Homo sapiens: one gene and its partners. The protein of the gene in region 5 interacts with the protein of the main gene of each other region in a pairwise test. Each region holds a gene or a part of one and is shown on either strand. Other genes may lie near its edges.

Region 1 (3,500 bases), on a different chromosome or scaffold from region 5:
AGCAAGATTTCTCCACTGCTCCAACCTACTTAAATGTAATTATGTATATGTAATTGCACATGGAATTAAACAGAAAAGAAATATTTTCGCTGGCTCATACTCTTTGCTGTTAAATCATAAATGCATCTAGAAATACAGACAAATATCTATAGCTACAACAATCCTGAAGGTTTTAAATGGAAATTCAAAGAATTAGGGTCATTTGTCTGTCTCAAAATCTATGAATACAAACAGACACACCAACACCAACACAGACACACATAAAGGTATTATTTTAGTTAATACAGAAGATAGCATACCACAAAAGCAATCCCTGAATGCATCTGGAGATGGTCTTTAAAAACTAAGAATTGTATGTTTAGATTTATGTTCACCTTTACATCACTATTCCCAATCTTGTCTGCTAGTTAGGCTACAGAAAATCCTGGAACTCACCAGTACAAGGTAGTATGCATACAGGGACGCACAATGATGCATTATAAAAAATTTGTCACCAATCACTTTCCAATACAAAATTATAATGGACAAATCTGTAAGAAAGAAAAGTGAGTAAGGTATTACATAAGAAGAAAGTTGCACTGTTTTTCAAATGTATTGAACTCTTTCTCCTGCCAACTCATCACTGTCCACTCTGAGCCCACAGCACTTTGTTCATCCCTCAGTTAGTCTGATTATCTACTTTACCATAAAATCTCTGCTCCTATATGCCTGTCTCATCCACACTCCTGTGGCTCCTCTAAGACAAGGGCCAGGTTGTGAGCATCTTTAAACCCTCAGAATCTAGCACAAGGCCTGGCATGTAGGTTGGTGCAAAAGTAACTGTGATTTTTGCCATTATTTTTAATCACAAAAACTGCAATTACTTTTGTACCAACCTAATCATATGTAATATAATATTTGTTGAAAGCATAAATGAATAACTTGTTTCCAGAGTTAAAATAAACAAAAAATATTATTGAATAGAAATAATTTTAAATAAGCTTAAGTGACTGATTTTTGTCACTACAATAATTCAAACAGAGATAAGATGGTCATAGGGAAGGTACAAAATGACCAACTCATTTATAAAACAAATCGTACAAAAAATATTTTAAAAATAAAAAAGAATGCAATTAAATACTAATTCAAAATAGTGACGCCACCAAAAACTATAACTATTAAAAAGAAAAACAAAGAAAAAAGCTTACTTCTGCAAATTTTACAAAAACAACACAAAACCATGACTACTGGAACACATTTCAAGAACTCTTGCAAGTGAGGGACCCTAAAAGTTAAATTTCGTTAGTTTCACAGTCATTACACTTAAGAGCCTCATTAGGACAAAGAGGGACCATATCCTTGCTGATAAAAAATGTCCAGGCCTCAGTTGTTTGAGGCATCACTCTGTAACTCTGATCTTCAGTGAGAAACAGAAAACCATTTCATGAAAAGACATTTCATGTTCTACCATCATGGGAGGTATTTTTTTCCTCTGTATGCTTCCTAAATGCTATCTCTCAAATAAACCAAAAGCATAGACTATATATTCTTTGTATAATTCCGTGAGTAGTTTACAAGGAATTAGACAATAAAACAACATCTCACATACCAGAAATGAGGTAGCCTGAGGCAATAGCAATATTCACGTTTGCAAGTGATGGACCACCCCTGAAAAAAAAAAAAGGTTCCTTTTTAAAGTATATAGATTGTAGATGACCGCTACTTCTTTTTTCTATAGAGATTTAAATATAATAAAATTGCTTTCTATAGATTCTCAAATGGTAAGCTGTCATCTTCAAATAAAATTGCAAAACACACAATGACAGTTTAGCCAAACTGTGACGCATCATGTGGTACTGGTGTTAGCAGTAAGGTAACTACTGCTGTTATCTTACATAGTAAGATAGTTACAAAGTGAACTACTAGTGAAAGTAACACTAACTAAAATAGCTGGACTACAAATATTTAATAGAAAGATTTAGCACAAGTTGTGCCTTCTTTACAAATTTTGATCTGTAAATATAACCAGGAAAATTTGACCTGGAGTAAATCATGACATAAAATTCAAATCAAAAATTATGTTAAAGTTCGATAAGGCAAAACTTGAACAATGAATCAAATCTTTGTTATGAAATTTACTTCCCAAAAGAACTGGTTTTATTTTGCTGATGGTCACGTTAGTAAAATGAAAACGAAAATTTTTAAAAAGCTAGAAATTTTGTAGGTAGACTATTTAAAAACCTAGTCATGGAATTAAATTCAATAAATTAATTCTCTTTGAAAAACAGCATCCCAATGAAAATGTATCAATACTGATATTATTCTTCTGGGAATAATTTTATATTTATGAATAGAAAAACGTCCTTGCAGTCAAATGGTGGTGGTCAAAAGAAAAGGCTAAATTGCCCTACATCCCCCGGAGCCCACAACTACCTCATCTCAGTGCAGTGCTTCTTCAAACATGCCTGCTCTCTCAAACTAAGCTGAACTAAGCCTTCTCATATAACACCAGGAAACAGTTTGCAAAATTTCTGCCATTGGAATGACATTTAAATTTTTCTAAAAGGACCATCTTACATGTTATCCTATTACTACTGAACACAGTTATTATTAGTGCATTAGTGCTTCAAATCCTGTGGTACTAAATTCCTATCACATGGCCATCTGTAACTCTCATTTCATCTCTTTGATATCAAATGAGTCAAACATAAATTGGAGACAAAAAAGTCTTAAGTAGATATTATCCAAGTTGACTACCCTATCTCAATAATGATTTATTTTTCTTCAGAACTGTGACTACAATAACTTGGCTTTACTCATTAACACAGTAAAAATGTTTAAATTATCATCATATTCTCCTTGTTTTGGATAACAATTGCTACACTAAGGCAAAATGGCCTTCATTTGTGTTCAAATCTAAAATAAATCATTTAAATGCACTTTGCTAGAATGTCTGAGCACAAGCATTTTAATAAGGCATATACGATCAATATGTTTTCTGTTTTAAAGTAAGTGATGTTCTTATAAATAATTAATATCAAAACATAAATGAAATTGGCAATCTTAGAAAAAGAAACAGCTTACCAAAGTGGATCAGCTTTAGTAGCCTCATCGAATAAGAAAATGTACAGGCCAAAAATACCAACCACCAAAGAATGGCATGTGGATACTACCCTGAAATTAAACAAAATACACACAAAGATTTTAGATTCTTTGCAATAAAATTTAATCCTGACAAGACACAGAACATTCTGAACAAGTTATACCTGGAAGCATTTATATACAGGTGTGAAGTATAACGGAGAGTATAATGCAAAATTGCCATTTCTTGCCATTTAGAAATCCAAAGGCCACAGCTTTACTTTGGAATAAAGAAGGAGGAAGATACCAAGGCCTACAATTTCCTGCTAGAGAACTGGTGAATCACTTATTGGTTAAAAGTTCTAAGACAGATAAATGCATACATGATGATGCAGCTGACAGACTTTTGTGCAGCCAGATGGCAACTGGCAAGGCCACTA
Region 2 (3,500 bases), on a different chromosome or scaffold from region 5:
TTTGTCCTTTGGAGGAGCAATCGGACTGATGTTTTTGATGCTTGGATGTGCCCTTCCAATATACAAGTATGTAAAATGTTTGTCTTTCTGAATATTTAAGGGTAAAATTTTTCTACTTTTAAAGCTTAAAAAAATGTTTTTTTACTACTGTAAAAGTAATGCAGAGAAATGTTCACTTACCAAACACATACCTTTGTAAAAATCACCACTTAAAGTTTGTTTCTAAAGATTTTAGGACACCAAGATGCAAATAATATTTTTGGCTGTTACCTGCTCTTTCACTACTGCTGAGTCTGCAGTGGCAAGATAGCTACACAGTACCTCAGCCCTCCTGCTCAGTTTTTAACATCTATTGATAATACTAATTACAAGAAAATTTAAAATGTCTTTTTGCAAAAAAATACCATAAGCAGTCAAAACACAATTAAAAAAAAAGAGAGAGATGTAAACAATTACTTTCCGGCCGGGTGCGGTGGCTCACACCTGTAATCCCAGCATTTTGGGAGACCAAGGCGGGAGGATTGCCTGAGGTCAGGAGTTCAAGACCAGCCTGGCTAACATGGTGAAACCCCATCTCTACTAAAAATACAAAAAAATAGCCAGGCGTGGTGACACATGCCTGTAGTCCCAGGTACTCGGGAGGCTGAGGCAGGAGAATCGCCTGAACCCAGGAGATGGAGGTTGCGGTGAGCCAAGATCACGCCACTGCACTCCAGCCTGGGTGATAGAGCAAGACTCTGTTTCCAAAAAAAAAAAAAAAATTTCTTTCCTTAGGATAGAAAGAACTTCTCAAAGTTAACATTTTAACATTTAGATAAATTAGAAAAAGATGGACAACTCAATAGAAAAATAAATACAAAAAGAGAACTACAAATTGCTAATAAGCACATAAAAATATCCCCAGCCTCACTCAAAACTAAACAAAATCTATTGACAAAGACAAGAGACAGGGCAAGCAGGGACTCTTTTGTGCTGTGGGGGGAGTACACATAGATAGTTTTCTTGGAGATAAGTTTGCTTGTAGCTCTCAAAGTATATATTCTTTGAGTTAGCCCTTTCACTTGTTAGACTTTCTGATACAAACCCACTTGCAGATGTTTACAAAGATATATTTAGTGGGGGAGAGTATGGATGTTCAAGCAGCCTTGTTTATTTTTTGGTTTTTGTTTTTGTTTTGTTGTTTTATGCGTTATTTATAAGAGCCAAAAAAAATTCTGAAAACATCCTAAATGTCCTTCAAAAGAAAAATGGTTAAATTATAGTAAATCTTTTAATGGAAATACTAGGCAGTCTTAAAAAGAATGAGGAAGAGCTGTAAGTGCTAACATGTAAATATGTTCAAGACATATTGTTAGAAAACTGCAGGGACCCATTCATATTTTAAAGTTTATGTGGAAATGTGGAAGGGTCCCTGAGAAGCTCAATAGGAAAGTGGGCAAGAGGAGATTTGGAACTTTTAGTCTTTACTTTTTGTGCTTTTGTACTGTTTGAATTATTTTTCTTAAGCATATATTCAATTTTTAATTTTTTTTCTTAAAATATTTAGGAAATGGTCAGGCGCAGTGGCTCATGCCTGTAATCCTAGCACTTTGGGAGGCCAAGGTGGGTGGATCACCTGAGGTCAGGAGTTTAAGACCAGCTTAGCCAACATGGTGAAACTCCATCTCCACTAAAAATACAAAAATTAGCCGGGCATGGTGGTGCACGCCTGTAATCCCAGCTAGTCACGGGGGCTGAGGCAGGAGAGTCACTTGAACCCAGGAGGCAGAAGTTGCAGTGAGCCGAGATCATGCCACTGCACTCCAGCCTGGGCAGCAGAGCGAGACTCTGTCTCAAAAAAAAAAAAAAAAAATTTAGGAAACATAAGTAGCTGCTTATCATTAGCCTCTGTACAATCAGATCTCCACCATGATACCTATTTTATTCTATGGTAGTTTTAAGGGCATCTATTTCTTTTTAACTTTTTATTTTGAAACAATTTTAGATTCTGAAGAAGTTGTGAAAATCATACACAGAGGTCCCCTGTACCCTCCACACAGCCTGCCAGAGTCATAAGATCTTACATAACCATAGTTATCAAAACCAGGAAATGACTGTGGTACAATACAGTTAACTAGATGTAGAGTAAAAGCCATCTATTTTTATTGTGATAAATTCTATATTCTGACTGAAAGTGTTCTTACTTTTAGCTTCTTTTCTGTATTTTGATTTCTGTAATTTGGGAGTTCCTCGTGTTGTAAGGGAAGTTTAGGGTTGTTTCAGCTTTATGCTAAGGTTGGGTATCATCCATTAGAAGTCAAGCGATTGAATCTTGATTTTTTAAAAAGACCATATTTTGTGTGTAGGAAAATGACATAGCAAAAATTACATTAACTTATTTTTCTTTTTCTAGCAAATACTGGCCCCTCTTTGTTCTATTTTTTTACATCCTTTCACCTATTCCATACTGCATAGCAAGAAGATTAGTGGATGATACAGATGCTATGAGTAACGCTTGTAAGGAACTTGCCATCTTTCTTACAACGGGCATTGTCGTGTCAGCTTTTGGACTCCCTATTGTATTTGCCAGAGCACATCTGGTAAGTGAATATATTCTTCCATTAATGATTTTATATTGAACATGTGTTACATTTTTCTCAAGCAAAGTTTTTGTTAATGACATGAAAAGAGGTGAAAGACATAAGAGCCTAGAAGATAGAGATTAAAATCTCACTTTATTGTTTGTTCTTGTTAACTAATAAAAGTGATATTGGAGAACGTGGCTTGGATCTGCAGCAGCTGTTGGCTTGCTAATACTTTTTTTTTTCTTTTTTTTTTTTTTTTGAGATGGAGTCTTGCTCTGTCGCCCAGCCTGGAGTGCAGTGGCGTGATCTCACCTCACTGCAAGCTCTGCCTCCCGGGTTCACGCCATTCTCCTGCCTCAGCCTCCCGAGTAGCTGGGACTACAGGTGCCCGCCACCACGCCCAGCTGATATTTTTTGTGTTTTTAGTGGAGACGAGGTTTCACCGTGTTAGCCAGAATGGTCTCGACCTCCTGACCTCGTGATCCGTCCGCCTCGGCCTCCCAAAGTGCTGGGATTACAGGCATGAGCCACCGCACCCGTCTGGCTTGCTAATACTTAACTGTCAGAGTTGAGCATATCAACTCCCCCAGTGCTGAACAACCCAGGCCTATCCTGTAAAACCTAAAATATGGAAGACCTGAGAAGGTGCATGTGCTCTGCAGGCAGAAAAGCACTGAAGAGGGGAAGGGGCTGGCTACGGGTACTCAGTTCTTCCTCCCAAACTCACTGATCCACGCGCCTTCATCTCTGGGGAGGTAGAGAAGACAGCCATATGGAGAAGGCAATTGTTTTCCCACCCCTTCAAAAGAATGTACATGGGTGTGTTTCCATCTGTGATATGCTAAAATTTAATCTACTCTAGATAGATTTTTATATTAAGGAAGAGTAAGCACATTCCTTTATAAACAGAAACTTGTAGAATTTTATGCTGCTTCT
Region 3 (3,500 bases), on a different chromosome or scaffold from region 5:
TGGGAGGCCGAGGCGGGTGGATCACCTGAGGTCAGGAGTTCAAGACCAGCCTGGCCAACACGGCGAAACCCCATCTCTGCTAAAAATACAAAAATTAGTCGGGCATAGTGGTGCGTGCCTATAATCCCAGCTACTAGGGGGACTGAGGCAGGAGGATTGCTTGAACCTGGGAGGTGGAGGTTGCAGTGAGCCAAGATTGTGCCACTGCACTCCAGCGTGGGCAACAGGGCGAGACTCCATCAAAAAAAAAAGAAAGAAAAACAGCCGCCCTTCACAGATACAATTTCATTTGATTTGCATGCAATTCCAATATTGAACAATAATGCTGGGTTAGATGTGTTCCCCCTTCCAAAGTTGATTTTTTAATATGATGTACAATATGAAGGGAAAGAGTCTTTCCATTTACTTTCTGCATGCATGAAAAAAAGTTTCCTTATTTCCTTTGTTAAAGCATGTAATAATTTTTATTTTTTAAAGAGATTTAAAAAATAATACAATACAATAAATAATTAATACAATAAATAATTAATACAATAAAATAATAATAATTGTATTAAAAAAATTAATACAGACGATGTCTCGCCATATTGCCCAGGCTGGTCTCTAACTCCTGGGCTCAAGTAATCCTCCTGCTTCAGCCTCCCATAATGCTAGGATTATAGGCATGAGTCACCATGCCCAGCCTTTAAAATAAATAAATAAATAAAACCCTATATTTGCCTGTGCATCACAGTTTACAATGTAATTTTCAATACATTGCTTGTTTTGGTCCTCATGTCTATCCCTGAGGTAGTCAGGGGAAAGAGTGCTATTTCCAGTTTAGAGATGAGAAAATGAGCTCGGGGAAGGGAAAGGACTTGCTAGAGAACCCTTGTTTTCTGATTTCAGTCTTCCAGTGCTCCTTCTAGCACCTCTCATGGACACATGTGCTACTATGCACAATCGCCAGGAGGGCACCTGTCCTCCCATTTCTCTTCTGAGCTACCGTCCCATCTCTCCCCAACACCATCACCTGTCCTAGGGCCTCACTCACTAGCACCTAGTACCTTCTCTGCCCTTCTTCTCCAGGCCTGCCCTTCTAGTTGCCCTGTGTGTTTTCCTCTCTTCCCCTGGTGATCTTTCGTGCATCCTATTCAAGGCCCTAAGTGACCAGCTAAATTGACAGAACAAGTCACGTCAGGGTGTCAGCATCTAAAAATAACCTCATTTATTACCCCTTTTTGGAAATTGTTTATATTCTAATCAAATTTTTCATTATCTCAGTGCAAAGGAAAGCATTCTAGAGCAATCTCAGGAGGAAAAATTGGGCATTGTCCAAAGAAGAGAAAGATTTGAGGGTATCAGAGAAGCTGGTTCATAATTCTTTATTATCTGCCTCATGATAGATGGATGCTACTACTCCCTAGTGAAATATGATCATTATTAATAATCATGTTTTTCCTTCTCATAAATTTCTTCATTATTATTATGGGAATTGAAGAGAAGAACAAAGGTCAAATGATTTGGTCAACATTATTCCAAGAGTTTGTTACTTTTAGTCAGCAATGTAGTTTGAGCTCCTGCCATATTTACAGCCTTCTTTGAATACCTAGAGGGTTTCATAGAAAGAAGGGCAGTGGTGGACTGGGTGCTGTGGCTCATGTCTGTAATCCCGGCACTTTGGGAGGTCAAGGTGGGTAGATCACCTGAGGTCAGAAGTTTGAGACTAGCCTGGCCAACATAGTGAAACCCTGTCTTTACTAAAAATACAAAAATTAGCTGGGCGTGATGGCAGGTGCCTGTAATCCCAGCTACTCAGGGGGCTGAGGCAGGAGAATCGCTTGAACCCAGGAGGCGGAGGTTGCAGTAAGCTGAGATCATGCCATTGTACTCCAGCCTGGGTGACAAGAGTGAAACTCCATCTAAAAAAAAAAGAAAGAGAGAGAGACAGAGACAGAGAGAGAGAGAGGAAAAAAAGAAAGAAAGAAAGAGAAAGAAAGAAAAAAAAGAAAGAAAGAAAAAAGAAAGAAAAGAAAAAGAAAGGAGAAAGAAAGAAAGACAGTGGTGTGCTGAAGACTCAAAGGATGGAGAAACAGACATTACCTCTTGAAGCAAGGAGCAGCAAGTCATACTGCAAAAGGCAAGCAAACAGAGGTGGGGGAACTTTGTGGCCATTTTTCAATGTACTCTTCAGGATCATACGAGCAGAGTTCTCATGCCCTGAAACTAGATTTTGACCAGAAGGGAAGGAGTGGGACTTGCTCTATGATGATACCTTGGATTATTGTTGCCTTAGGGGCAACCAAGAAAAGAGAGGGGCTACCCCACTTTCTGCCATACCCCATTTGCCATCCTGACTGCTTTCCCTCCATTAACTATAAATGAACTAACTATGCTTCTATCTCTGCCATCCCATCTACTTGTTCACTAGAGCACATCACCTCTCACCTTTTCAAAGATGTTAATCCAGCAAATCATTTTCTTGCATTTCATTTCTTTCAAACTCCACCAGCTCTACTGTCATCTTCACCAAAACAAAATCGTCTTCCAATCCGATCCCTGTACCAGACCTCTTAACTGTTTTGATTCCACCCTTGTCCCTTTCACTTCATCAGTTTATTCCCAACACAGCATCAGATCATATGATCTTGTACAAATTAGATCCCATCATTCTTCCTCTCAGAACCTTCTGCTGCTCCATGCAAATGCCATAAACTCTAAGCAAATGCCAAGGTTCTAACATGGCCAATAAGACCTGCTGTGATCTGGCCCTCCCCATCCCTCCTACTACTTCATCCCCTTCTATTCTCACGTTGTTTGCTGTAATTTCCACATTGGACTGTTTGCTGTCTGTTGAGCATGACAAACACACTCCTTTGGGCCCCTTGAGCCCTTGAGTTGCAATTTCCTGTGTTTGACATGCCTTCACACAGATATGTGTATAGCTTGTATCCTCATTTCTTTTCTTCAGCGCCTGCTCAATGATACCTTCTCAGAAAGGCCATCCTCCAATGACCCTGTGCACACACTCTCTCCTGTTTTATTTTTTCTCACAGCACTTTTTACTATTTAATGTTGCTGTTTTCCCTCTCCCTCCATTGGAATGTAAGCTCCATAAAACAGGGATTCTTTTCTTTTGTTCTCTGGTGTATTCTTCGTGCTTAGAATAATGCCTGGCACCCAGAAGGCACTCAGTATATTTGGGAAATAAACGAAAGATAGAATAACATGAATAATGACATTTGTACAAAGCACATTCATGTAAATTAATCCATAAAATTCTCATGATAAACCTACTAGACAGATGTAACTTTCAGCATGATGTCGATGAATAAACTGAGTCCAGAGAGATTACATAGTACATCAAACCCAACTCTTCAGTTGCCAGATTCTATCTTCACCCTGCCTCTATAATTGTAACTGTGCATTCCTTGAGACTTCTTAGTCCACTTCTGAGTTTGTCAACATGAAATGAATGAATTTATCTTTGCCAGCTCTCATTAAATATGAATGTGCCTTGA
Region 4 (3,500 bases), on a different chromosome or scaffold from region 5:
TCTTTCTCCATTGGTTCCCAATTTTGGCTGTTCTTTAGAATTACTTGAGGGAGCTTTAGAAAACACTGATGTCTGGTCTGATCCAACCCCTAAGATTCTAATTTAATTGGACTGGGGTGTAGCTCATATATTGGCATTTATAAAGATTCCCCAAGCATTTTAAGTGCAGCCAAGACTGAGAACCACTGTTCTAAACTCATTCATAACTATTTAAATATGTATCGCTTGGTTTAGTGCATGCTGCATTACTTTACTTTCCTCTTTGGCCCATTTAGGAATTTCAGCTGTTATTACTGTTACTTCACTGTGCTGGAGTTTTGCTTCAAATATATTAACTGTGTTGAGGTTCTTTCAGTAAGCTGGTCTCCAAAGAATATTAAAGTAATTGACTTAGGTGTTTGATCATTTTAAATATAGTAGCAAAGCAACTAGGAGTACATCAGTTGGGTGTGGTTAAGAGTTTAGGATTAATTTGTAGCTCTGTCATTACCTTAAAAATACTTTCAAGAAAGGCCAGGCACGGTGGCTCATGCCTGTAATCCCAGCACTTTGGGAGGCTGAGGCGGGTGGATCACCTGAGATCAGGAGTTCGAGACTAGCCTGGCCAACATGGTGAAACCCCGTCTCTACTAAAAATACAAAATTTAGCCGGGCACGGTGGCGCGTGTCTGTAATCCCAGCTACTAGAGGGGCTGAGGAAGGAGGATAGCTTGAACCTGGGAAACGGAGATTGCGGTGAGCCAAGATCGTGCCACTGCACTCCAGCCTGGGCAACAGGGCGAGACTCCGTCTCAAAAAAAAAAAAAAAATTCTTTCAAGAAATATGATGAATTTAAAAGAGTTTTATAGATTTTCTAATTACCTTACTCATGTAGTACATAAGTGTAAATTTTAACATCAGGTTAACAAACTATCTTCTATCTATTTTACTAAAGTAATGCAAATAGCACCAAAGGATGTGAAAACAGTTTTAAGTAACACTAAACATGTAGAGTTTTTATATAACAAGAAAATGTATGGATTTCGAATGTGACATATTTTATTTATTAGAATTTAAGAAACATGGTGAAGTTGTCACGGTGTGAATTCTGTAAAAGAAATAGGATTTCAGAAGTGCTTGAGAGAGTTGTTTGGCCAAACTGAAACTCCAGGGAGGGTCTGACAGGAGCTATTGAACGGCAACATCATATTCATCTTTACATCCTTAGACACACCATGACACTTGCTGAAATAAATGGGAGATCAAGGCCAAGCTCAAAACTATATTTTAAGAACTATATTCCTTAGAAAATAGCTGGTGTTCACGAATTTCATAGTATGACTTTAATAATCAGTTTAGAGGAAATGTTAGAAAATTAAAATGAACTCCCTCCCTAAGTAATTTGATTTGAAAAATTCTTTTTAGAAAGTCTTTGCTCTTATTTTAATGATGGTGAGCAAGGTTTTGCTTCAATAAGAATTCTGAGTTAAAAACACATCTCTTGTTCCTTTATCCACTTGAAAGATTTATCAAATAAAGTTATTCACAAAATGGCTATTTAGTACAAATAAGATTTATGACAAGTTTGAGACTATTATTATGAAGTCTCTGAGGGCAGGAACAGGGTCTCATTCAGCTTTGTATCTTTCAACGCCAAGCACCTAGGAGGTACTCAATTTATACTGGTATTAGTTAACTTCAAGGTCCGCAAACAATGTTAGAAAATACTAATAAAGATACTGTTATTTAACATGCTTATTGTTGCCCTTCAAAGATTAAACTTCACATATGGATGGTAATTTGCCTGGCTAAAATGATATAAAAGATGAACCATGTTAGATGTTGTAAGAGGGGAATAAGAAACAGAGTTGATGCCTTAGCACATACAAACTTATTAAAGAAAGTCAGAGTAACAGAACTTTAGAGTTCCAAGAGATCTAACATAACAGTTCATTAGAAGAAAAGTGCCACCTCATCATTTGGAATTGAAAATGATTCACGATTTCACAGCAAGCTCTTGTGGTCTAAGAAGCCTTATCAGCTGAGATGGATTTGAAGCTATATCTTTAAAAAAAGTTTATTTTACTTTTATTTTAAAATTTTTTTTACTCTCTCCATTTTGGAGATGAATAAAGTTGTATCTTAAGGAAAGGAAAGAATAGGCAGACAGGACACTTAAGAGGAGTCTAACCATATGAACAAAAGCCTAAAATAAGTAGAAGATATTTTGGAAATTAAAAAATAATTTGGAATACAGTGTTTATATAAGTGAGAGAAAGGACCAGATTGTAAGGGAGTATTTAATGCTCAACTAAGAAGTTTGGACTAAAAAGATGGATTCTAAGAATAAATGGCATTTAAAACTCTAGTAAAATAACAATTAAGCAAGGGTGAATTACCTGATACTTTTGTATTTTACCATCTTGAGGTACTTAAAAACAAGCACCCAAATGGGCTAGTTAAGAATAAACATTCCTACTCATTTATACATTCTAGTCTAACATTCTTTTTAAAGTACCAAGGCTTATAAACAAATTTTAAAAGGAGGGAAGTGGAGTGGTGATGGGACGCATCTATGTGCTTTACTAGTTTGAGCTGACCTTTTTTTAAAACAAGAAACATGTTTAATTTTTAACTTAGAAATTTTTAAGTAAAATGGAAAACAATGTATGGCGTTGGCCAACCAAAGAATGGCATATTCCTTACGGTACAATTTGATTTGAATGAAAATTATTATTTATAAACGTGAATGTTTCTCTCTCTACTGTTCTTACTGCTTATAAAGAGATATTGGCATAGCTCTTAAGCTATTCTTAGCATGAAACTTGGTACTTTGGCATTATACTGATGTCAATGCAATTTAATGTAGGAACTCAGTGATGAAATAAATACTGAGATGAGAAAGCAGTGTTTTGTTGAAAACTACCACACAGCATTCCAAATTTCACATGTTCTATTTTAGAAGCATCCTTTTTTTCTTACAAATTTTATCTTTAAAAAAGTATTATGGAAAATGTCAAACATACAAAAGTATAACAGTATAATGAAACCTCATGAACCCATAACCAACCTTCCACAACTATCAACATTCCGTTGCTGTTGTTTCAGCGACTTCTGTTTTTTTCTTTTGAAATATTCAAACGCTAATCTCAACTGGTGTGGTGGCTCACACCTGTAATCCCAGCACTTTGGGAGGCCGAAGCAGGTGGATCCTGAGGTCAGGAGTTCAAGACCAGCCTGACCAACATGGTGAAACCCCATCTCTACTAAAAATGCAAAATTAGCTGGGCGTGGTGGAGCCTGCCTGTAATTCCAGTTACTTGAAAGACGGAGGCAGGAGATTGGCTTGAATCGGGGAGGCGAAGGTTGCAATGAGCTGAGATCGCGCCATTGCACTCCAGCCTGGGCAACAAGAGCCAAACTCCATCTCAAAAAAAAAAAAAAAAAAAAATACCCTGTAAAAACCAAATCTCAGATATGATATAAGTTTATCCATAAACATTTCAGTATGTATCTCTAA
Region 5 (3,500 bases):
AAAAGAATGAGCATGAGATCAAGCATGACTATGACAGTCCCCTTCTGTGTGTCAGAAGCCACTGGAGTAACACTGATGAAGTTGGTTTCCTTCCTTTGTCCTCTCCTCCTGCCCCTGCAGAGTTCCTTCACCCCAGCCCAGTTCATTCTTGCTGAATGAACGAAGGTGGAGGAGGCGGTGCAGGGGTCAGGAGAAGGGCTGGCAAGTCTTAGAGAATCAGGCGAGGCTGGAGAGAGAGTTGGGGCCTGGTCACTTCTCCCAGCCATCGCCCATTCCAGGACAAGAGAGGTACAGTCGCCTACCTTCAGGAAGTCTTTCTTCTCCAGAGTGTCCATGATCAGTGGTGGGATGGCTGTGGGGAGAGCAGGGCCAAGAAGGAGAACATTAGTAGTGGAGTTAAAGTCAGGAACTGTGAAGGGTGACCCCCCTCAAAGCTCCTCCCTCTCTCCCCAGAGTCCTCCAAAGTCCCTGAGAACTGCACCTGCTTCTCTCAGAGTCTCCTATGCCCCACCCAGCCACTCCCGCCTTACCCATGGCAGGAATCGCCATGCAGATTCTTGAAATCACCACCTGGAAGATTCCCTGCTTGGCTGCAGTCACCGAGTAGCCAAGCCTCTGACCTGCCTCATCAGCCACCGGGATGCCCACCTGCAGCTCTCTGCAAGGGAGGGGGGTTGGGGTCAGATCACAGGCCCCGGATCCCACCTGCAATGCCCGAATGAGCAGCGGCTCCTCAGGGTCCCCTCACACACCCCAGGCTCAAAGGCTGGTTCTCCCACCTGAGGATCCCAGGGTCAGACTGAGCCAGGGCCCAGCAGCTCATGTCTGGGGAGGGAGAGGGATGTCCCCATTCTGAGGTGGTCTGCGTGGATGGACAGTGTGCTACATTCTGGGCATGCACATGCCAGGAGCCGGGGTCACTCACCTCTGCCTCATCAGGGGGATGTTGATGCAGTTGGCAGCTGCCACTGCTGCAAAGGGCACAAATCTGCCGACCAAGGGGGGCAGGTGCTGGGGAGGAAGGGTGTTGTTCAGTGGCCCTAAGGGCCATGGGGTGGTGAGGGACTCTGGGGAGATATAGGGGGCATATAGGTCAGAACTGGAGGTGTGATGAGGAAGAAGGAGGCAGATAGAGGATGAATGGGGTGGTCAGGGGAGTGAGGGGCCTTTACCTTGGTGAGGGATTTGAGTCCCAGGGCCGTGGCCACAGCTCCAGTGGTGGCACTCACATAGGCTGTCCCCAGCTGCCTGTGGGTGGAAAAGCCAGGTCACGGGGAGAGGTGACAAGTCCAGCAGGTGGCCCTTTCCTTTAGGGATATGCCAAGTCCTCAATACATGAGGCATAAAAGGGGAAGCTCCTTGCAGAAGAAGCCTTCCCTCCATCTCCGGCGTAAACTTGTCTAGAAGCCCCAGTAGCACCCTGTGAAGAGGGGTGGGTCCCCCACAGCATACATAAGAGGACCTCATGCCTTCAGTTAGGCAGGGTAATTCGGGGTGGGGCAGGCTGAGGAGAGGGCGCTGAGCACTGGCTGCATGGTCCACAGGGAACCGGAGAGAAAGGAGAGGGCACTGCAGGCTGGGAGGAGAGGGTCAGATGGGACAGTGCAGCTGCTGCTGGGGGCTGGCTCTCACCTCACAGTGATGGGAGTGTCACCACTGCGGTTGGAGTAGTTAACAATGGCATTGAAGGACTGATTCACCCACTGCCAGAACACCACGGTTGGGGTCTTCCTGAGGGAACAAAGACACTCACTTCTGCCCCGTCTACAGTGGCCCTCATCTTTAGACCCCTGTAATGAAACCAAAGGTTATTCCCCAAGCCTAAGAAGGGACCCAGTTAATGGCCCTAGAACCTGTTCTGGTAACCCCTATGTACCCCCACCCCCATTTATACAAACACACCTACTGTCTCTGGGGTGAGAGACCTCCTGAGGCTGAATTCTGAGGAATGGAAGCGATTCTGACACAATCTTTCACTCACCCAGTTGGCCCAGACAAGAAGCGCACCTAGTCAAGCTATGCTCTAGCTTAGGGCACTGAAGAAGGGGACGTGGGACAAGACCTGCCTGTAGAATGTGAGCATGCAGCCAGTGATGGTCATGTTCATGGGCACCTGGGCTGACATGCGGCCAATCAGGACCACCTTCTCCCCTGTGTCCGGATGGAAGGCGGAGTCATACACATACTTGGCCCTCCACAGCTGGTCCTCGGTGATCCCTGGGGTCACCACGCCGGCCCTGCAGAAGTTGGCAAGGAGCAGACAGGCTATGCCAGGGGGCAGATCTGCCCTCACAGGCCCCACCTGCCCAGCTCAGGGTAACTCTGGACAGAGAACCAGGAACTTCAGCCCCCAGTCTCAGCATAAGGAAGCTCCTTATCTTTGGGAGAGGGCCAAAGTTTCCCAGAAGTGGAGGCTCCTATTTCTATTTCCCTTATAGCCACACAAAGAGGGGTACCCTTCTGTTTCTGCCAAAATGCTGGGTCAGGGATGATGGTGGTTTCCAGTGGGTCAAAAATGGCTGCAAGCATTGCAAGAGTTTTTCCTCCCAAAGATAAGGGGATTTCCCTCCTATCTTCCTGGGACTCCACTTTGAGCACCTCTATCCTTGCAGAGGGTGACCCCGCAATGGGATAGATCCCTGTAGAGGTTTGTGATGCATAGAGCAGCCCCTCCCATAAATATCAATGCCATCTTCTCAACCCAAATGCCCTAAAATCCTTTGGGTTAAAGCTCTGTGATGCCAACAGACGGGGCTAGAGAGTGAGGGGATTGAGGGACAGGGTCACTGTCAAGCTTGAGGAGGCAGGTACAAAACATATTATATTAATCACAGAAAATGAGATCCTGGCACACAGGGTCAGATTGAGGGGTGGTCACCTGTAGTTCTGCACGATGTTCCGAGAAGCTTCCAGCTGTGCCCCGGACAGCAGCAGATTTCGAGGATCAGTAACAGTGAAAAAGTGCCGGGCTCTGCCCAGGAAAGTACTTTGGTCCCAGCGAGGTTCCTGGATGTTGATGTCTAAAGGCAATTCACCCATTTTCTGCAGGACAGAGATAAGGGTCAGAGCGGGAGTCCAAGGGTCCAAGGGCTCCAGCTAGGGGAAATCTTTGGTGCCCCTGCCCTGGCCCCTGAGCTTATCATCAGTCCCTTCAAGAGCTCAAGGTGACTAGATGTAGGGAAAAGAAAGAGAGATCAGACTGTTACTGTGTCTATGTAGAAAGGAAAGACATAAGAGACTCCATTTTGAAAAAGACCTGTACTTTAAACAATTGCTTTGCTGAGATGTTGTTAATTTGTAGCTTTGCCCCAGCCACTTTGCCCCAGCACTTTGACCCAATCTGGAGCTCACAAAAACATGTGTTGTATAAAATCAAGGTTTAAGGGATCTAGGGATGTGCAGGACGTGCCTTGTTAACAAAATGTTTACAAGCAGTATACTTGGTAAAAGTCATTGCCATTCTCTAGTCTCAATAAACCAGGGGCACAATTAACTGCGGA
Region 6 (3,500 bases), on a different chromosome or scaffold from region 5:
AGAAATCACCACCCACTATAAAAGCTGAAAACACTGGATACTTGCTTTCCCAGACTCCCTTGCAGTAAGGAGGACCACTTGTGCTAGGCTCTGCCTAACAAAGGTATCCACCCCACACTTTGAAAGGAGGGCTGCAAATGGAGCCAGGAATGGAACAGGGAGGGAGACAGGTGTGGAGTAACAGAAGCAGGATCAAGCTCCCAGGCAACAAGGCCAGCAGAGCAAGCTTCAATTTCACACTTGGCAGTGGTAGTGCAGTTCAGCAGCATGATCTGGGTTGTTGAATCCTGAACTGGGATTTGGTATATATAGCCAGGAGCACCAGAAATTCTGAGTTACCCAATATACCCCTTTAATAAACATTTGATATGTAACATATGTACAGAAACAGGCACAGTATAACAGATGTAAGGGAAAAGTGCACGTAACATTAAGTCTACAGCTCAAATAATTTCACAAACCAAAACCACCTGTGTCAAGAAACAGAACATTAACAGGTGTTGACCCACTGCACAGTTGAAAATCTGCATATTATTTTTGACTCCCCCAAAACTTAACTACTAATATCCTACTGTTGACTGGAAGCATTACCAACAACATAAACAGTCGATTCACACATATTTTGTATGTTATATATGTGTTACATACTGTGTTTTGAAAATAAAGCTAGAGAAAAGAAAATGTTAAGAAAATCATAAGGAGGGCTGGGCATGGTGGCTCACACCTATAATCCCAGCACTTTGGGAGGCTGAGGCAGACGGATCACTTGAGGTCAGGAGTTCGAGACCAGCCTGGCCAACATGGTGAAACCCCATCTCCACTAAAAATTTGCTGGGCTTGGTGGTGGTCACCTATAATCCTAGCTACTTGGGAGGCTGAGGCAGGAGAATCGCTTGAACCTGTGAGGTAGAGGTTGCAGTGAGCTGAGATCGCGCCACTGCACTCCAGCCTGGGCAACAGATAGAGACTCCGTCTCAAAAAAAAAAAATCATAACGAGGAGGAGGAAGAGGAGGGGTTGGTCTTGCTGTCTTCAGGGTGGTAGAGGTGAAATAAACTCATGTATAAGTAGATCCACACACAGTTCAAACTTGTGTTGTTCAAGGGTCAACTACACTTCCAAAGCCCTCCTTATTTCCCTTTCCCTTCCCAAGGGTTACTATTCCCTTCCCAAGGGTAACCATTATCCTGATTTCTGACACTATAGATTAATTTTATCCATTTTTCAACTTGATATAAATAAAATCATTCACTATGCTCTCTTTTGTGTCTGCTTTCTTTCCTCAATTTTAGGTTTTGTGAGATTCACCCATGTTATGCATAATTGCAGTCTGTGCTCACTGCTGTATAACCTTCTATGATCAGGTGAATACAGGCCAGGTGGGGTGGTTCACGCCTGTAATCCCAGCACTTTGGGAGGCCAAGGAGGGTGGATCACTTGAGGTCAGGAGTTCGAGACCAGCCTGGCCACCATGGCCAAATCCCACCTCTACTGAAAATATAAAAATTAGCTGGGCATGGTGGCACATGCCTGTAATCTCAGCTACTCAGGAGGCTGATACAGGAGAATCGTTTGAACCCGGGAGGCAGAGGTTGCAGTGAGCCAAGATCATGCCAATGCACTCCACCAGCCTGGGCAACAAGAATGAAACTCTGTCTCAAAAAAAAACAAAAACAAACAAACAAAAAAACTACTTATCTATGCTACCTTTAATGGGCATTTAGTTTCCAGTGTGATTCTATTACAAACACTGCTGCAAACATTCTTGCACATATTAGTAAACACATGTATGCGTGTATGTTGGCTGTATATCTAGGAATGAAACTGTGGGGCCAAAGGGTATGCATTATATCCCAGTTCTTTTTAATAAATTCTTTTCTGCTTAAAATCAATCAGATTGTATTTCTCTTCCTTGCAATTAAGAACCTGGGCTGATATGCTATCTGTTTTTTCAGTAGCCATTTTCTCCACAAAGCTTTCCCTGACTATAAAAGCCCTCAAGGAGCAGTAATAATGCACATCCCATTTCAGTATATTTTACATTATCCTGAATTATTCAGTTATTTTATAGCAGTAAATCCTGTCCCTCCTACTGTCATAAGCTCCAACACAGCAGTTTTCAACTGTCACTTCATAACAAACTGGTGTGCCATGGTAAATTATAGTATACAGTAAGTAATTTGTTACTAATAAAAAAAGTACCAAGTCTGTGAATGAATGATATATATGGATAGATTCAAGATTCCCTTTAGATAACATTTCTGTCACTCGTTTGAACTCCAGTATGCTCCCTTGATCAGATGATCTGATGTATCCCACAACCCCTAGCAGTGTGTCTTTTATATGAATGTCATCTATCATGAGTGTCATGGTAGGGGACACCATGTGTATTACTTTTCCTCTATCTCCTATCATTCCAAGTAGTGCTGAATGCATATTAGATTTTCAATAAATACTGATTAATTATATCAAGGTGAAAACACACTGCAATAGGGACCCAAAACATAGCTTAATCTAATTACAGAGAGGCCAGTCCTTTAGCTCTTCCAAATCTTGAACATATCAGTCTTCTGGATATTCCCTCAAACCCCATGTTGGGTTTCACTTCAATAAATTTTGACATGGATGTCAAGCTAGGAACAGAGCTTTTCCCAAAAGGTAAGTTTACAGTTGAAATATTTACACTTTATTAAAAAGTATCTAGCAAGCAATTTCCATCCTTATTGCTGTGTTTGATTTTACAATACCCAATTTTTAAAAGGCTTTATGACATTAAAAAACCATAGATGAATATATTCTAGAGTGTGTAATTTTAGAGCTGAGAGTTTATTCTCTAAATAAAAGAAAAAGGTATGCCTCAAAATCAACCGTTCTCAAAGTCAAATATCCTCTCAATCCTGTTTTCCAAAAAGGTCATTTGTAAATTCTTTTAGAATGCAGACCTTGACCGGGCAGTGGCTCACACCAGTAATCCTAGCACTTTGGGAGGCCAAGGGGGGCAGATCACTTGAGCTCAAGAGTTCAAGACCAGCCTGGGCAACATGGCAAGACCCCATCTATACTAAAAATACAAAAGAATAGCTGGGTGTGATGGTGCATGCCTGTGGTCTCAACTACTCGGGAGGCTGACATGGGAGGATCGCTTGAGCCCATGAGGCAGAGGTTGCAGTGAGCCAAGATCACTCCACTGCACTCCAGCTGGGGGAATGGAACAAGACCCTGTCAAAAAAAAAAAAAAAAACCTCTCACAGAGAACACAGACCTTACTTCCCCAAGTGTATGACACTGCAAAAAGTGGCTAGGTTTTTGCAAGTCTATTTGACCCAAAGTATAGCTGAAAACATAAACACACAAAATTAGGGGTGGGGGAAGAACATAATGCTAGCAATAAAACAAAACCAATAAAAAGAAACCAAACAATGATCCAAGATACAATGGATTGATTATATAATGAAGTGATTAAGAGTCCCCATTCCTGGAGTGGAAGAGCTAGAACTCAAA

What was found.
Region 1: the proteins of SFXN3 (region 5) and TLCD4 interact in binary tests that used the Homo sapiens proteins (3 or more experiments, as listed by UniProt).
Region 2: the proteins of SFXN3 (region 5) and LEPROTL1 interact in binary tests that used the Homo sapiens proteins (3 or more experiments, as listed by UniProt).
Region 3: the proteins of SFXN3 (region 5) and SCN3B interact in binary tests that used the Homo sapiens proteins (3 or more experiments, as listed by UniProt).
Region 4: the proteins of SFXN3 (region 5) and SH3GLB1 interact in binary tests that used the Homo sapiens proteins (3 or more experiments, as listed by UniProt).
Region 6: the proteins of SFXN3 (region 5) and LAMP2 interact in binary tests that used the Homo sapiens proteins (3 or more experiments, as listed by UniProt).

What each region holds. Positions count from the first base shown.
Region 1 is NC_000001.11:95,148,355-95,151,854, reverse strand, and holds part of TLCD4 (TLC domain-containing protein 4), read right to left. Parts: intron 3,154-3,500; coding exon 3,064-3,153; intron 1,648-3,063; coding exon 1,589-1,647; intron 531-1,588; coding exon 436-530; intron 1-435. Other genes in the region: TLCD4-RWDD3 (TMEM56-RWDD3 protein), read right to left, coding at 436-530, 1,589-1,647, 3,064-3,153.
Region 2 is NC_000008.11:30,101,908-30,105,407, forward strand, and holds part of LEPROTL1 (leptin receptor overlapping transcript-like 1), read left to right. Parts: coding exon 1-66; intron 67-2,392; coding exon 2,393-2,579; intron 2,580-3,500. UniProt on the Homo sapiens protein: Negatively regulates growth hormone (GH) receptor cell surface expression in liver. May play a role in liver resistance to GH during periods of reduced nutrient availability.
Region 3 is NC_000011.10:123,648,125-123,651,624, reverse strand, and holds part of SCN3B (sodium channel regulatory subunit beta-3 precursor), read left to right. Parts: intron 1-3,500. UniProt on the Homo sapiens protein: Regulatory subunit of multiple voltage-gated sodium (Nav) channels directly mediating the depolarization of excitable membranes.
Region 4 is NC_000001.11:86,707,576-86,711,075, reverse strand, and holds part of SH3GLB1 (endophilin-B1), read right to left. Parts: intron 1-3,500. UniProt on the Homo sapiens protein: May be required for normal outer mitochondrial membrane dynamics. Required for coatomer-mediated retrograde transport in certain cells. May recruit other proteins to membranes with high curvature. May promote membrane fusion.
Region 5 is NC_000010.11:101,034,234-101,037,733, reverse strand, and holds part of SFXN3 (sideroflexin-3), read right to left. Parts: intron 3,043-3,500; coding exon of another isoform or gene 3,040-3,042; coding exon 2,879-3,039; intron 2,238-2,878; coding exon 2,067-2,237; intron 1,791-2,066; coding exon of another isoform or gene 1,732-1,790; coding exon 1,633-1,731; intron 1,249-1,632; coding exon 1,173-1,248; intron 1,068-1,172; exon of another isoform or gene 1,012-1,067; coding exon 926-1,011; intron 659-925; coding exon 531-658; intron 353-530; coding exon 303-352; coding exon of another isoform or gene 1-302. UniProt on the Homo sapiens protein: Mitochondrial serine transporter that mediates transport of serine into mitochondria, an important step of the one-carbon metabolism pathway.
Region 6 is NC_000023.11:120,459,297-120,462,796, forward strand, and holds part of LAMP2 (lysosome-associated membrane glycoprotein 2 isoform A precursor), read right to left. Parts: intron 1-3,500. UniProt on the Homo sapiens protein: Lysosomal membrane glycoprotein which plays an important role in lysosome biogenesis, lysosomal pH regulation and autophagy.